Linked DNA regions of Homo sapiens: region 1 is linked to region 2. Evidence: fine-mapped expression QTL. A gene starts in region 2. The other region holds a variant in brackets. All regions are shown on one strand. Distances are from middle to middle.

Region 1 (8,313 bases), 170 kb before region 2:
TCTTCTCCCATGGGCAGGGGTGGCAGGGAGGGCTTCTTAAAGTTACCGGGGTCTCAGCCACCACAGCAAGGGGAGAAGGGGTGCAGAATAAGCTATGTATGGACACCCATGGGAAGGCGGGCTGGGAGGAGAACACAGAAACCTGGATGAAGAGTGTAGTGTGGGAAGTGAGATAAGAGAATTGGGGAGTGAGCAGGGATGGACAGACAGCACAGCCCATGCCCTGGATTTTCAGAATCAGACTTAAGATGTCAGCAGAGGAAAGGACTCACGGATCTCCTAGCCCACTTGCCACCCATCTCCGCTACCCATTGTTATGAATGGGAACAATGAAGTCCTGGATGGGGAATGGATTCGGCCACAGTTGACAGCAGGGCCAGCACGGAGACCCAGGACTTCCAATGCCAGAGACCACCATTTTCCCATAACAACATACTTGGTTCCACCAAGAGGGTCCCATTTGTTCCAGAAAGGACATGGGGCTTGGAGTTAGGCAGCCTGGGCTCAGATCCCAGCTCCAGTACTTCCTAGCTGTGTGACTTAAAGCAAGTAACTTAACCTCCTGATATGCTAGGTAAGGTAGGTTGCAATGTTGAAAAGATCAAATGAGTGTACATTAAAGCATCTTAGCATGATGCCTAGCACAGTGAGGATTCAGAAAATATGTGCACCTTTCCCTTCCCTTGGGAAATCTAAGCCTGGGTGCTGGAGCATCCAAGCACTGAGTGAGGGCCGCCTGTCTGGGGCACAGGACCAAGTCACCTCTAGACCAGTGAGGAAGGGTGATCCCTGTGCACTGGGGGGGAAACTAGAGCTGCAAGAAAGTAATGGCTCCAGGACGCAGAGCAGGAAGCCCAATCATGACTCTCCACTGCTAAGCCTGAGCCCGGTTGAGTGCTCTACTTTTTGCCAGAGGAAAACCCTAGGGCAGCTCCCAAGATTCCCTCCCTCTCCAGGGTAGGAAGGGTGAGTGTGAGCCTGGGCCCTGGGCTCCTCTCCCGGAGGCCACTTTCAGCTCATTCTGTCCATTTCCAACAAGCCGATTTCTGGCGGGCCGCGCCTCATGCCTGCAGGCAGCCCTTGTTCTGAGGAGAGGAGGTGGCCTGATCATGGGGATGCTGAACGACACTCTCGGTTATGTAGACAGTGGACTCGGGGGGTGAGTCCAGGCTCAGTTGTCCTGGGCAGGCCAGGCCCCTCCACCTTGAGCACCAGGGAGGAGTGGAACCACCAGCAGCGGGACCTGGAGCCAGGTACCAGTAAGCTGACCCGGTCTGCACAAGTCAGCCTTTCAGAGCCTCTGTTTTCTCATCAGCAAAATGGGGCAGAGGGGATCATACCATCCTGACCTCCTCCAGTGAGGCAAGGGTGTGGAAGCGCTGTGTAAACACCACCAAGCAGCCACATATACGGGGTGGAGATTGCTGTCACCATCCCAGCTGCTCACCACCGCCTCCCTCCCTTCAGACCAGCCTGTGCGTGGAGGTCCGGTATCAGGCCACTGACGGCACAGTGGGCTCCTGGGACGATGGGGACTTCCTGGGAGATGAGTCTCTTCAAGAGGAAGAGAAGGACAGCCAAGAGACGGATGGACTGCTCCCAGGCTCCCGGCCCAGCTCCCGGCCCCCAGGAGAGAAGAGCTTCCGGAGGTAACAGGCAGGACCCCTCTGGCTGCCCACTGCTCCCAAGACACGGGGAAGAGACCTGGGGCCTGGTCCTACTGACAGGCCTCTCTAGGCCTAGCTGGGCTCAGAGTACAGGGCTGAGCTTCTGGAGAGACATCCAAGGGGTGGGAAGATGTTTCTGTAGCCCCCCACCCAGCCGTCCACCCCCGAGGTCACTGGGCAGGGAGCAGGAGACTCAGATGGAGCTGCAAGGCCAAGGCCTCCCCAGTGGCCCTGAGGGAGGTGGAGCTCTAACACAGGGATGGGGCTAGATCTCCTGCCTTTCTCAGAGAAGGGGAGTTGGGGATAGGAGGGCCCCTGGCCTCTCTGGTTCAAGACCCAGCAGTGTCCACCAGGTGCCGGCAGCCTGACCTCTACCCTGGCCCAGTGAGGAGGCCCAAGAGAGGGCAGCTCTTCCTGCCAGAGTGAAGCCAAAGATCCTGGCTGGGCCCTGGCCTTTCTTCCTCTTGAGAAGGGAGGGTACCCGGGAACCCCCAGAATCCAGCGTCACGCCCTGCAAGTGTCCTGCCACCTATGGATCACAGGAAGCTGGATCCAGGACAGCTCATTCCACGTGCACTATTTTTACAAAACAGAAAATGCAATTGTATTACTATTAGAGACCAAGGGGACAGAATCTGGGCTAGTCTAGTAAGATGTTGTCCATGGGTTCCTAAGTCACTAGGAATTATGTGTTAAATGCCAGTAAGTCAAGGGTGCATCTGAAGGACCAGGGTGTGTTTTGAGAAGGGACCCTCCGTGCCACTGGAAACATATCCCTGTAAGCTCCTTCCACGCTTTCCTTTCCAAGTAAAGTTTACTCAGTCCCTCTGCTGAAGAAACCATAGGTTCTAAATTAGTGTAATTGAACTGACATACTTTTATGGGACAAATATGTTTTCTCCTTTGCACTTGAATGAGTTCACACCCCCTTAAGCACCCCTCACACACAGGTGCATGAGTGCACACGTGTGCACATACACATACACACACACACACAAGCTTCAGAAACCCTGGGAGCCAGATGAGTAATAGTAACAAGGTCAAAGTGACCAGGCCTGCAACAAACATGGCGGGACTGTCTACTCCAGGCCAGCCACGGGCATGGGGCAGCCCCAGGCTAGCTTAAAGCCTGTCCCCTCAGACTCCTGGCTCTTTAGCAGAAAACCCAGGCCTGAGTCCTAGCTCTGCCTCTTACTAGTCGTGTGACCCTTGGCAAGTCTCTGACCCTCTCTCCTCACCTGCAAAGAAGGACATAGCAAGGAAATCCCCCTGCCCTGCTGCTGGGAGAGCCGGAGGGATCACAGAGGAACAGGTGGCAATGGAGGTGCTGAGCGCTGCCCATGTCCAGGCTGGTGACAGACAAACAGGTTTCTTGTAGCACAACAATGCAAAGAGTCAGGAATCGGGTTGGAAATTGTGAGAAGAGGAGCAGTGCTCAGACGGGGAGTGAAGGGATGCTGACTCAGTGGGCACCACCTGGTCCTCCTCGACTGTCTCCATTCAGAAAAGAGGTTGGCAGGGCTGGTCCAGAAACCAGAAGCCGGGCTCTAAGAAAGAGCTTCCAGAGAACAAGATCGGAAGCCACACAAGGGCCATCAGTCACAGGGAAAGGAATGCTGACCCCAAATCAGGAGAGCTAAGGCCCATTAAGTCCCATCTTGACTGTGCCACTCATTGGCTGAGTGACACTGGGCATGTCACCAGCCCCTGTAGGTCAGTGACAGGAATGGGTTCAGCAAGTTACATCTGGCTCCCCTCCAACTCTGAGGTCCTAAGGGACCCATGGATGCTCCGGACCTGTGGGTCACATCCATGGGAAACAACATCCTGGGAGCCCTTAGCAGCCACGAAGGCAACCTCCCTGGGGTGGCGTAGCAACACAGAGCCAGTTTCTCACTCAGTCCTAAGAGAGTGGGCCAGGGTGCTGATGGGGGCTCTGGAGAGCTTAGAGTCCCAGAGAGCCCTAGGCACCAGGAATCTGGAGATAAGAGGGCTCCCCCGACCCTTCCTCACAGCCTGGTGGCTTCCCCACCTCTCCCCATCTTCGTGTGGCCCCTCCCAGGGTAGCAGCAAGAAGCGGGAGCAAAAGGAGGGGCTTCACCCCGGACTGGGAATTGGGAGAGGGTGACAGCCGAAGCCAGGCACCCCCACCCTGCATTGCAGGGGCAGTGTGCAGGAGCACAGTTTCCCTGCTGCCACTGGGGCTGCCAGCCCAGGTTTGAGAGCACA[T/C]TGGGGACAGGCATCGCTGCTACACCTTCTCCCGCCAGGCCTAGCCATGCAGCCAGCAGGCCTGGTTGTGGAAAAGAGGGGTTGAGAAAAATTCTAGAGATGGGCCATTTGCTGGTGAGGAGAAGGTGGAGCGGGTTCAAGAACTTGGGGTTTTCCTGTAGCTTAATCCTGGCTGCCCATATGGGGCCATTGAGTTCTGGGTCAAGGAGTGCTGAGGTGAGGAGGGGGACCTGGAAGCTGGCCCCGCAGCCCTAGATGTTGCATCTCACCCTTGTCACATAGTGTGGGTTCTGGGAGGAAGCCAGAGAGCTCTCCAGAAGGGACTTGGCCAACCTTTTATCAGGAAAACACCTACTCCTTAAAGAGGACAACACCGGGGAAGGGGTGTCAGTGCCTCACCTCTGACCCCGTTAGGAGCCCAGGCAGGCTTCCCCTGCATCTGCTCCCTGCCCTCCATCCTCTCCTGGGAAGGCCAATCCCCTTATAGATCAGGGTATTCAATAACCACAGTTCCCTCTTGTTCCTGCTTTAGCCACAATGAGCAAGAGGAAAATCCCGTTGCTGGCAAGCAGCAGTGTCTCACCGGCCATCTTGACCGTTAGGGTCCGGCGTGGGGATCAGCCGCTCCCTGGCTGATGGGGTGAAATGAAGGCCTGCTGGGGGCTGCGGGGAGGTAGACTGAGTGGGCAGGAAACAGCCTCAGCCCAGACAGGCCCCGGGCAGCCCAGGCTGGAATCTTCCACGGATGGAGGGGAGGCTGATGCCAGGAGATCCTCTGGGCACTCCTCACCTCTCCCTCCAGGGCCTGGGTCCACCCCCCAGCCCTGCCCTGCCTGGCCTGCTTCTCTGGGACTTCACCCACATTCATCCTGTCCTCACTCTGGGGGTCAGATGGTTCTAAGCAGGGGCAGTGTGGACCTCAGGCCTCAGCTGCTGTGACACTCACTCCTAAGACCCTAAGAATCTGCCATGAAGTTACCCCGTTCCTCCTCAGGGAATCAGTATGGGGGCTCTGCCTGAATGACCACCAACCCCACCGCCCACTGACTCTCTGCCCCAACGATTCCACCTCCCCTAGGCCCTGGTCAGCCGCATGCCCTCTGAGCCACTCTGCCCACTTCTCTAGTTCCTGCCACGAAGCCCTGATTTCTGCCGGCTTTTTGCACAATGCCCCCGGTAATGTGCCAGGAAGCTGTGCTGTGTGACAGAGCACAGGCTCCACTCACAGCTCTGCTATTGGGAACCCCCCTCCCCATTTGTGAGATGGGGCTCAAGGATGCCTCACAGAAGTGCCAGGATTGAGTGAGGTGCACCTGCGAGTCATCCACCCCTGTGCCTGGCATGTGGCAGGTGCTCAGCCAGTGTTCACTTCCTTCCTCTTCACTGACTCCATGTTACCCTGATGTCAACTTCTACCCCGAGCAGCACCTGACCCTCTTGTTCAGGTGCTGTCCAAGCACCTTCTCAGCTCTTGCTCCCCACCCTATACCAAGGGCTCTGCAGAAGCTGCCCACACAGGAGCCTTACTGGCCCAGGGGCAGGTATAGGGAGCTCATTTACTCAAAGTTCCCCTCACCTCCCCAGGCTCTCAGTGTTGCAGAGATGTAATGAATCCCTAACCTCATGGGCGCTCCACTCTCAGCAGCACAAAATCAGTGTTCCAGACCCTTGCATGGCAGCGTATGCCTGCCCTAGTCTCTGGAGAGAAAGTGACTTCGGCCCTGACCACACTCACATGCACACACATGTGTACACAAGTGCCCATGTGTTTGCACACACTCACATGCACTGCATGACACCAGGGAGGACTCTGGATTCTGGGCTCTGCTGTTGATGCTGTCTTTAGGAGTCACATCTTAGAGAGGACAAAGAAAGAAATCCCAGCTTTAGTCTTGCAGCTAAACTGTAGAGACCTGAGCCTTTCCTCCTGAGTCCCAGTATTCTGCGACTATCTCCTCTTCTCATTTTCTCCACCTGGCCTGGCTCTCCTGCCCTCCACGACCCCCACCTCCTTCTGCTGCCCAAACCCTCTTCTGCTGGTCTCCTCTCTGCTGGGTCTCATCTGGGAGGAGTTTGGGGCAGGAGCCACTTTTCTCATTCTCCTTATTGATCATTCTTCCACTCCAGTGGAGGCCTGCAGAAGCCAGGTAACTTCCTCCTATGCTGGGGCCAGAGGGCAGTGGGGCACGTGTGCATGGTGGGGCTCTGAGACAGAGGGGCAGAGAGTGGGCATGCAGAAGTGTGTGCATGTGGGGCCAGTACATGCAGCCTTACCCCAAGAGTGTTTTTAAATCGGTTTCCACAGCCCCTAGAGAGCTAGAAAATCCTCTGCTGCCTTCCTTCTCCAGGCTGAGCCCCAGAGTTGCAGCAGCTCCCAAAGCTGCTCAGATGAGCCGGGGCAGCCGGGCGCACTGGGATTTTGTGCTTGAGACACATTCCTCCTCCTATGCTGTGAGCTCTTCTCCGCTTAGTAGTCTCAGCTGATGTGGGCAGCCGAGGCCTGGCTGATGTTAACACCTTTGAATTACAGACTGACCTGCTTGCCCAACGTAAAGGTTAGCTGGCCAGCGCTGGACTGCAGCTGTGCTGTGTCTAGGCCTTCAGGTCTTGAGCCATCAGGATATGCAGTCAAGTCTACCTGGGCAAGGCCTGTGCCAGAACAGGGTGTGAGGAGAGGAATAATTTGCTAATTGTTATTCACTTTCCTGTCTTCATCCTCATTGCCACAGCACTGGGAAAGCATTGAGAGAACATTCCAGAAAAGTTTTCTGGAAGCCTCCCTAAAGTGAGATAGGGGGGCCGTTTTTCCCTGCTCTGAGCCCTGGAGTGGTAGCTCACTTACCGCCCCACCTACACCCCTAGAACTGCCCCCAACCACCCGTGTGCACTCCATAGCAGGACCCCCAGCCCTGCCTCACCCTCACAGAGCAGGCTTAGCCCACTGTTCCCCTAGAGGCCCCCAGAGCCTGGGAGCTCCCACCCCATTGGAGGGGAGCAGGGGAGCAGGGGAGCCGGTGGGCAGAGGAGCAGGGTGGCCCAGGCCGGGAGGGTGGCCAGGCTCATCTAACCCTGTGTTCCCTGAGGAAGCTGCGACCCACATTGTGGAATCATCAGATCTTAGCCTGGTAGGGGCGATGAGCTGAGGCCCTGAGGTATCAGAGCTTGGGGTTGGAATAGTGGCCACCCAGGCCCAGCACTGTGGGCCCCTCCCATCTCCCCCAAGGCAGAACCCAGGGCCATGGGACCCCTTTTCTGCAGACCTAGGCTTGCTACCGTGCGAAGCTGTGGGGTGAGAGGTCTGTGGGACAAGGAGGCCCCCGGGGAGCGTGCAGGCCCGTGGGGCCGGGGCTGAGGCCAGTGTCTCTGGTCCACAGCCCCTCACACGTGTCCCCTTGTCTCCTCATTTCTTCCCCCTACTCAGCAAAGGCAGAGAGAAGACCAAGGGAGGCAGAGATGACGAGCACAAGTAGGTGTCCCAGGCGAGGGCAGACGCAACAGCGTCTCTGGGGAGACAGAGGCCTCCTCCCCACAGGCTGTGGAGGGCGGGATGGGCTCGGCTGAGAGGGCTCAGGAGTGGGCTGTCGTGGTAGAGCTGGCACGGGTCATGGAGGCCCAGGGAGGCCTTTTCACCTGGCCACGGGGGTGAGGGATGAGGAGGGGTTAGGGTCGCGGGGGAGGTGGCCAGACCTTCTGGTTTCCACTCTGGGCTCTCGGGGGTGACCATCCTCCTCTCCGTGTCTTGTTCCTCCTCCACTGTTCAGCCCCCATCCTGTGGCCTTCGGGCTTCCCTGGGAGGGAGGGGACAGCTAAAGGCTAAGGGGAGAGGGGCATGAGGACCTCAGGGATCCCTCTCCCAACAGGGGCGAGGTAGGGCCAGGCAGCTGGAGGCATAAGGAGGAGGAACTCTGGGTACCCTTTGCAGCTGCAGGTCGTGGGTGGAGTTGGAGACCCCCAGAAAGCTTAGGAGAGGCCACCATTTGGGCGGCCCTCTCTATCTTCATCTCCCCAAAAGGCTTCCTGGAAAAATGAGGTCAGGGTGCTGTCTGGAGAGGACAGGAGAAGGGTCCTGCAGGTGGGAGGGGCTGGTCACAAGGGTCTGGAAAGATTCGAAGGCTGGGAGTTGTGAATGGGTCTTGTAGGCACCCCTAGAAGCACACTGACATCTGGAGGACTCTAGCATTACGGGATCTCATAAGGGCAGTGGTAGCCAAGGTGGACCATACTGGAGGAGGCCTCTGGTTAACACCTGCTCTTACAGATGACAAATCTGTCTCAGAACAGGGGCAGAGCTGGAACCAGAAGACAGGGAAGCTGACTTCTGACCCAGAGCTCACCATAGACCCAGGAAATTTAGAGAACTTGACTGTATCTAAATTTAATCTAATTCTCCAAACATACCAATGAGAGCTGAAAAGCC
Region 2 (8,571 bases):
ATACACACACACTTTTTTTTTTTGAGTCAGGGTCTTTCTCTGTTGCTCAGGCTGCAAAACAGTGGCACAATCATAGCTCACTGCAGCTCAACTTCCAGACTCAACTGATCCTCCCACTTCAGCCTCCCAAGTAGCTAGGACCATAGGCACGTGCTACCATGCCTGGCTAATTTTTTTTTTTTTTTTTTTTTTTTTTTGTGGAGATGAGGTCTCACTATGTTGCCCAACTTCTATCCTCAAGCCATCCTCCCACCTCAGCCTCCGGAAGTGTTGGGATTACAGGCATGAGCCACTGTGCCCAGACAAATAACTTTCTCGAACCAACCAAACAAGATATTTCACAGAATATTTCCTCCCTTAGGCAAAATGATACAATTTCAAAGTAGCTGCTACACTATCAATTAAAACTTTGCCTTCCCAAATGATGAGCAAACCAGGACAAAAAAAAAAAAAAAAAAACCAACTTGCAGTTTCACCCTTAGATAAGTGGGGAAAAATCCCTCAACTATAAAGACCTGTCCAAGGGCTGGGCACGGTGGCTCACGCCTTTAATCCCAACACTTTGGGAGGCCGAGGTGGGTGGATCACCTGAGGTCAGGAGTTCGAGACCAGCCTGGCCAACATGTGAAACCCTGTCTCAAAGAAAAATACAAAAATTAGCCGGGCATGGTGGCAGGCGCCTGTAATCCCAGCTACTCAGGAGGCTGAGGCAGGAGAACTGCTTGAACCCGGGAGGCGGAGGCTGCAGTGAGCTGAGATCGCGCCACTGCACTCCAGCCTGGGCGACAAAAGCAAAACTCCATCTCAAAAAAAAAAAAAAAGACAAGTGTGGTGGCTCATGCCTGTAATCTCAGCACTCTGGGAGGCCAGGGCGGATCACCTGAGGTTGGGAGTTCGAGACCAGCCTGACCAACATGGAGAAATGCACCGCTACTAAAAATACAAAGTTAGCCAGGTGAGGTGGTGCATGCCTGTAATCCCAGCTACTCGGGAGGCTGAGACAGGAGAATCGCTTGAACGCAGGAGGCGGAGGTTTCAGTGAGCTGAGATCGCGCCATTGCACTCCAGCCTGGGCAACAAGAGCAAACCTCCATCTCCAAAAAAAAAAAAAAAAAAAAAAAAAAAAAAAAAAAGCCTGTCCAAAACAAAGGATGGGTAGAGGCAAAAATAAGGCTGAAATCCTTCAGTATAATTCTCTGAAGTTACCTTAGTTAATAAGCAACAGAGAACAATGGCAGTTAAACCTGATATCTTCACATTTAAAATACAAAAGCACCCTTTCAATATCCAGACATAGAGCTCCTTTTTTTTTTTTAACCATACTTCCAAAATGGTTGATTCTTTTACATTCTCATTCCTTCAATATTTGTTTAGCACTTACTCTGTTCATGGTACTGTGCTAGACCTCAGTCATGTTATTAAAGAAAAAAAAAAAAAAGTCAGCCATAGGGCCTGCCCTCTTAAAGCTCACGTCCTAAAAGAGAAAGTAGACATTCAACTAATAGTCAACTAACTGTTTAATACAATTGCGTTAAGTAACACAATAGCGAATGCAAGTGTCAATACATAACACAGAATCCATCCCACGCTCTTCCATACCAAAAATCAATTGTCTTATAGTTTCCTGCTTCAGAAACCTAATTTCCACTCCCCGTGTGCACCCCTTTCAGCAGTTATTCTGTATATCTGTCAGGTTTCCAACTGTAGCTCTCAGATATACCTCTAGGGAAGATAAATTAAACTACTTCAAAAGTAATTTTTCCACCAACTGCTTTTGTAGTGTCAGTTCTTCTTTACATCCCTCTTATAAAGCATCACATGAGGGAATACAAAATATCTTTTGAGTGTTTTCAATCTTTACCCATTTATGGGGAAAAAAGACTTTTTAAAATAAGCATTTATAAAGCGCTTACTATCTGAAGACAACATAAGGGGAACGCAACGATAAGAAAAAAAGATCTGTGAGATTTGTGTTCAAGCAAAACTGATCCCATGGATTTTTCCTTTGGATACCACTGGATTCATAATTTTAATATAAATGCAGTATTGAGTAATTGCAATAGAAGAATATTTAGGTTATAAATGTGTGCTTTTTTTTCCCCAAGGAAGCCTCATTATAACTAAAATGATATCAACAAACTATTTTAGTGAACATTGGACGCTTGCTAAATCGACCTTTGTTTTCCAGGATGATAGGAAGTCATCTGCTGTCAGATACAGGAACTTATATAATAAAAAAGGGGGAAAGATCAGAACAGAAAATTACACGAAACTTCTAGTAAATTAAGACACTTATTTAGTTGAAAATATAAATCTAGGGAAGATTCTTTATAAGAAAAAGGAGATTTCCTATTATAAACACTGCTCCCATTGAAATAGCTATTTTATTGGCACTTAGAAAGTCAGACCCTAGTAAGGAAGAAAATGTTTTATATGTCAATATTTACCCTGCAGAACAGACAACAAAAGGGGAGTAGAGCTTAAGGCAAAACAGGAGGTATCTGGGTTAACAGCCTTCTAAAATGAAAGTTGAAAAGCACTGGCCCGAGTTACCAAGAAGGCTCTGGACCCTCTTTCCACTTAAAATGTTAAGACAAGTCATCACCTCGGTTCAGAATGGTATGGCACAATACGGCTTGAAAGCAGAGAAACATGCTATGTGACCTTCTAAGGACCCTTGCTTTTTTTTTTTTTAACTCGAGTTAAACAAAATCCATTATGACTTTTTCAGTTATTCATTCATTCCACAAATGCTTACTGGGTGCCTAGTATGCACATAGCACTGTGCTTAAGCCATGATGGTCCACAAGAAAACTCTAATGAGTTGGGCATTATATTCTAATGGCGAGACACGCTAAAGCAGCAATTCCATAAACGAACAGAGCGCACATTTAAGGGGGAAAGGGGCACGTAGGGAGGGCTTCTTTGAGGAAGCAATATTTAAGCTAAGATGTGAAGATGAACGGGTAACAACAAGGATGAAGGGTTAAAGCCCATATTTCAGGCTTGGTCGACTGGATGGTTAGAGTCATTCATTGGTAAAGGAACTGCGGATGGGAACCAGATTTGGAGGAAAGTTAACCACCCGCATTTATTTACTGGGGTCCTAGTATGTTGCCAAGCGCTTCACAAATTCCTCTAATCATTTTGCACAGCAGAAGCTATTACTTTCAGTTTCATACACAAAAGAGAGGCTGAGCGGGGTTAAAATGACGTGCCCAAGACGAAATAAAGAAATCTGACTTTTGTAATCAGGTTTGTATGTGCTCGAAAGCCCGCGCTCTTTCCACTCCACAGCTCCTTCCTGTGCACCTCCCTTTCATCTGGTGGCCCTAGCGCCACAAGCTGCCGCTTAGGAAGTCCCTGCCGGGAGCAGAAGTGGAGACATCAGCAGGATGGCATCGGCAAGTCGCTCCCCTCCCGGGCCTCATCTGCCAAACGATCATCTCCTCCTCCGAAGTTGTATGCATGACAGGCGAGTGGAAACTTCACTAAAATGAAGGCGATTGACACAACAGAAGGAACTCCATCCTTTCGGGGGCTTACGAAAATAATAAGTTTAAAAAAAATAGGAAGGGAATTCCCTCGCTCCATGATCACTGAGCGCTCTCCTAAGGAAAAGGAAATCTCCCGGGGGGTGCCGACTACGGGCGGCGGGCTTAGGATGCTCCCACGCTCCCCGACCCCCAATCCCCAGGACCCGCAGGACCTCCGGAGGAACGCCCGCCAGCCCGCCCGGAGCCACGCGGCACAAGGTGACACGGACCGCGCCGCGCGGGCCCCTCAGCCGCCTGGGCGAGGCCGGGAGCAGGGAGAGGGGCATCCGCCGGCCCGCGGTACCTTGTACTTATCAAAGCCAGCCAGCTGCTCCGGGCTCACGTATTCGTAGCCAGCCATGACGACCCGAAAACTGAGCGCCCACTCGGCAGCGACTCCCGGCTACAAGGCTGTGACACACAAGCACCACACCGGCTGGGCAAGGATGGCAAAGACTGGGCTGCCCGAGAAGGTAGGAGAGCCGCGCTCCGCCCACCGCGCACGCGTAGCCGCCTCGGCCCCTTCGGCCGCCTCTCAGTGCGCAAGCGCAGCCCACGCTTCTCCCCGCCCATCGAGGGGGGGTTGCTAGCCCGCTCGAGCGGCCCGTCCCCCGACACTGCTGTTGTCCAATCGGCGTGGATCAGGCAACACTAAGTCCCGCCTTCCAGCTCTCTTCGTCGCTTCATTTGCTAGCGTCAAAATTGGTGAGCTGAGGTAAGGCAAGAGAGGGGGTGAAAGGTCAATTTCCCAGCGGGCTTTGCTCCCGGTCCCGGGGGAAGGTGGGATTTCTGTGGTATCCGCACTTGCGTGGTGATCTGGGGTATACCGTTTTAGTCTTGGGGGTAGAGTGACTGCTTGCGAACCAGTTCAGCAGTGCCTCAGGTAAGAGGACTTAGTTCTCCCGCTGCAGCGAAGTAAAAGAGGAAGGAGGTCTGTACCGCGAGCCGCTCCCAGCTCCTGGTGCGGTGCGCTGCGTGCCGTAGAAATTTAGTAAACGTGGTTAGATGTAGAGAAGGCCGAGCTGCTGCCGGGGCCACGGGAGTCTTTGTGCGGTCAGCAGAGGGACTTGAAAGACAGGTGAAAGGACATTGGAGACAAGCCCCTCAGGTCTATGTTGCTTAGGAACCTTGGACCGCCTCATCGCACTCCGCTCTATCAAACCGTTCCAAATTAAGATTGCTGGTGTCTCCCGACCAGATAAAAGCAGTGATCTCTCAGTCTCGACGAGTCCTTAAATGCGTTTGCAAGAGGTGTTTTACATAACTGGAGCCCAGTTAATTGTAAAACAAACAAACAAACAAAAAACACTAGATCAATGGCTAGTGAGTATCTACTAATAAAATTTTATAATAGTTGCTGCTTTTTATTGAGCGCCTTCTGTGGGGAGAACTTCACATACATTATCAACCCCATAACAACACTGAAGTGAAAGGCATTATCCCCTTTTTCAGATTAGGCAGCCTGCCCAGAGTCACTTAGTTACGAAGCTCGGAAATGATCGACCCAACATGAAATGAGTTCTGTGTTATGGGAAACCACTACTTCAGGGAGCCTTTCAGTCTCTCTGGGTCTCTGAAATAAGGGCGATTATTTTGAGATACTTTTATGTTCATTCGTTTAACAACTATTTATTGGGGACCCGAGATATGCCAAACACAGTATTATTACTACATGTCTAATCTCCCCTCCTAAAGCATGATTCTTAGAAAGTAATAGATAATCTTATACCTGGTATATGGTAGATAATAAGCTTCTCCCCGCCCCCTGAGACAGGGACTGACTCACCCAGGCTGGAATGCAGTGACGTGATCACGGCTCACTGCAGCCTCGACCTCCCCTGGCTCAGGTGATCTTGCTTCCGTCTCCCAAGTAGCTAGAACTACAGGCGCACACCACCACACCCGGCTAAATTTTTTGCATTTTTTGAAGAATGGGCGCCCGCCAACCAATAAACTTCAGTGTCCTTTATCACACTTGCCCTCGAGGGCAGTATTTGCATCTTATACATCTTAATTTTCCCCATGTTCCATAACCCAGGGGGCTTGCAAATAATACATGATCAACGTATTTTATTGAATGAATGAGCAAAGATCTCTTTGATATGCTGTGAAGTACCAGTTTTGAGAAGAACATTAGAAATGAGAGTCTCGGCCAGGCGCGGTGGCTCACGCTTGTAATCCCTACACTTTGGGAGCCTGAGGTGGAGGGATTACTTGCGATCAGGAGTTTGAGACCAGCCTGGACAATATGGTGAAACCTCGTCTCAACTAAAAATACAAAAACTAACCGGGTGTGGTGGCACGCGCCTGTAGTCCCAGCTACTCAGGTTATTGAGGCAGGAGAATCGCTTGAGCCTGGGAGGTGGGGTTACGGTGAACCGAGATTGTGTCACTGCGCTCCAGCCTGGGCGACAGAGCAAGACTCCGTCTCAAAAACAAAACCAAAAAAACCCTTCATACTTGTAAAACTTAGTTAATTGTGGAAAGCCATAAAATGTGACTTCAGTGCAAGCTAATAATAGTTTATAAACTGCACTTATTGTTTATCAGTTCAGATATAAGCAAACTCAAAATGACATGATTGATTCTTAAAATTGTTTTCTACCTCTGATATTTTCTTTAAAAGCACTTTTTAAAACAGTAACTTTTAATTTTGTGAAAGCAGTTACAATTTGCTGCTTCTCTGCATAAGGTTGTAACAAGTTTGAATCAATTATAAATTCATCTGATAATTTATAAGCTGAAGCATAACCCAGAAATTGGTTTATACTTTGACATGTTACTGGCTGTGTAATCTCAGACAACTTACTTCACTTAGCCCCAGTACTCTTTTTCAAAAAGAGGGTATTTGGGCCGGGCGCCGTGGCTCACGCCTATAATCCCAGCACTTTGGAAGGCCGAGTCGGGCGGATCACGAGGTCAGGAGATCGAGACCATCCTGGCTAACACGGTGAAACCCCGTCTCTACTAAAAATATAAAAACAAAATTAGCCGGGCGTGGTGGCGGGTACCTGTAGTCCCAGCTACTCGGAAGGCTGAGGCAGGAGAATGGTGTGAACCCGGGAGGCGGAGCTTGCAGTGAGCCGAGATCGCGCCACTGCACTCCAGTCTGGGTGACACAGCGAGGCTCTGTCTCAAAAAAATAAAAAAAAAAAAGATCATTTGATCCTAAGATCTAATTCGATCCATTAGAACCTATTAGGTACTACGATCCTATTCATCTCTGAAATTCAGTGAAACTGTATATCATATAACTTCTCTGAGATTAAGTCATCTCATCTGGGAAATCTTGTCTTACCTACAATGATATGGCCCCAGTCTGTTCAATTAAATTCATACAAATTTAAGATATTAGTCATGCTCCATATAACCATGTTTCCGTCAATGAGGGACCACATGTGGTCCCTTAAGATTATAGTGGAGCTGAAAAATTTCTGTCATCTAGTGACATCCTAGCTGTCAAAATGTTGTAACACAAGGCATTACTCACGTTCGTGGTAATGCTAGTGTAAACAAACCTACCGCGCTGCCAGTCATCTAAAAGTATAGCACATATAATTATGTACACTACTGAATACTTGATAATAACTAACTGTCTTACTGGCTTTTGTATTTACTATCAGAGCATATCCTGTCATTAAGTGATGCATGACTGTATTTTCGCAGAATTCTGTGAATCCTAAACCCGGCAGGCATGGTCACGTGGGAAGAGAAAAATGTCATGGAAACAAATTTGCCTTTGGAACTAAGTCACCTTTCTGTTTCCTCGTTCCCAAATTTTATTCCAGGAGGCATTTTTCCCTAAGGCAGCCCAGCTGCCCCGGACTGCTTTAGATTGGCCTTGTTATTCCCATCTGTGCTCTACACGCCACATTCCTGAGTGTAGTTTATTATTGCTTTGTTTCCCATGTCTGCCTCTTCATCCATTGAAGTTTATTTCTTCTACATCTTGTACACTCAAGATCAGGCATTTTGCCTTCCAGAATAATAATCATAGAAAATATCAATTCGTGCTAGAAACAATATTTTTATTTTTATAATATAACCAAAATAAAGTGTTTTAAGTTCCTGGAGTGCCTGTTTTATTTAGTCTGAATAAGAGTGTATCAGATAAATGGAGACAGCCAAAAAATATTGGAGGTTAATTAAGGACTAATGTAGTTAATAACTCCAATATAAGTTACTGAAGCCATAAAAATGGGCAGGGTCTTCCAAAGAAGTTTGTAAAAAGGTATTGATTTAGTTCTCATTTTAAAATAAAAATGAATGCCTTATACACATAAACTCTGGTTCTCAAAGCAGTTTCACATGACTAACAATCCTGAGCCATGGGCCTGATGGCTGTTCCAATTGTATAGAGTGGAACAATAGAATAGTAATATATCTTACCAAAAGTCACCCAGGAAAGAGGAACACAGGTCATCAGACTTTTAGTTGAATAATTTTCCACTACACTATGCTTCTACAAGTTGATGGTAAGATATTAAAAAAAAAAAATCACAAGTCAGTTGTTTTTTTTTTGAGATGGAGTCTTGCTCTGTCGCCTAGGCTGGAGTGCAGTGGCGCAATATCAGCTCACTGCAATCTCCGCCTCCCGGGTTCACGCCATTCTCCTGCCTCAGCCTCCCAAGTAGCTGGGACTACAGGCACCTGCCACCATGCCCGGCTAATTTTTTGTATTTTTAGTAGAGACGGGGTTTCACCGTGTTGGCCAGGATGGTCTCGATCTCCTGACCTCGTGATCTGCCCGCCTCAGCCTCCCAAAGCGCTGGGATTACAGGTGTGAGCCACCGCGCCCAGCTCACAAGTCAGTTTTTAATCAAATTCCAGCATGCTGAAAGGCTGAGAAAGGAGGGTCCCTTGAGCCCAGGAATTCAAGACCAGCCTGGGCAACATAGGGAGACCCTGTCTCTACCAAAAAAAACAAAAAGGAACTCCCCAGTTATTATAGTAAATCTTCTCAAGTGGGGTTTTGTTTGCCTGTTTTTTGCTATATTTTACATTTTTCAATCATAATCCTCTTAGGTAAGAATGT

Which allele goes with the higher level. Positions count from the first base shown, and alleles are read on the strand shown. Sizes are in standard deviations (SD) of each study's normalised expression.
As copies of T replace C in region 1, the expression in spleen of the gene that starts at base 3,987 in region 2 goes down (small effect, 0.23 SD a copy in GTEx).

What was found. PIP is the estimated chance that this variant, and not a neighbour inherited with it, causes the effect.
Region 1: its variant is fine-mapped to the expression of SELENOI in spleen (GTEx, PIP 0.97).

What each region holds. Positions count from the first base shown.
Region 1 is chr2:26,509,754-26,518,066 of GRCh38, reverse strand. It overlaps OTOF (otoferlin), which reads left to right. Exons shown (of 47, transcript NM_194248.3): 5 at 1,468-1,649. Among named protein-coding and RNA genes, the nearest start is that of OTOF, 45 kb to the left of the region's middle. RefSeq lists an enhancer at 5,795-6,718. The variant T/C (reference allele first, on the strand shown) is at 3,897.
Region 2 is chr2:26,341,559-26,350,129 of GRCh38, reverse strand. SELENOI (selenoprotein I) reads right to left here and starts at 3,987. Exons shown (of 10, transcript NM_033505.4): 1 at 3,841-3,987. The coding sequence starts at 3,897. ADGRF3 (adhesion G protein-coupled receptor F3) reads left to right here and starts at 3,341. Exons shown (of 14, transcript NM_001321971.2): 1 at 3,341-4,009. The coding sequence starts at 3,896. RefSeq lists enhancers at 3,083-3,182, 3,295-4,062, 4,383-4,522 and silencers at 3,723-3,772, 3,833-3,892, 3,943-4,172.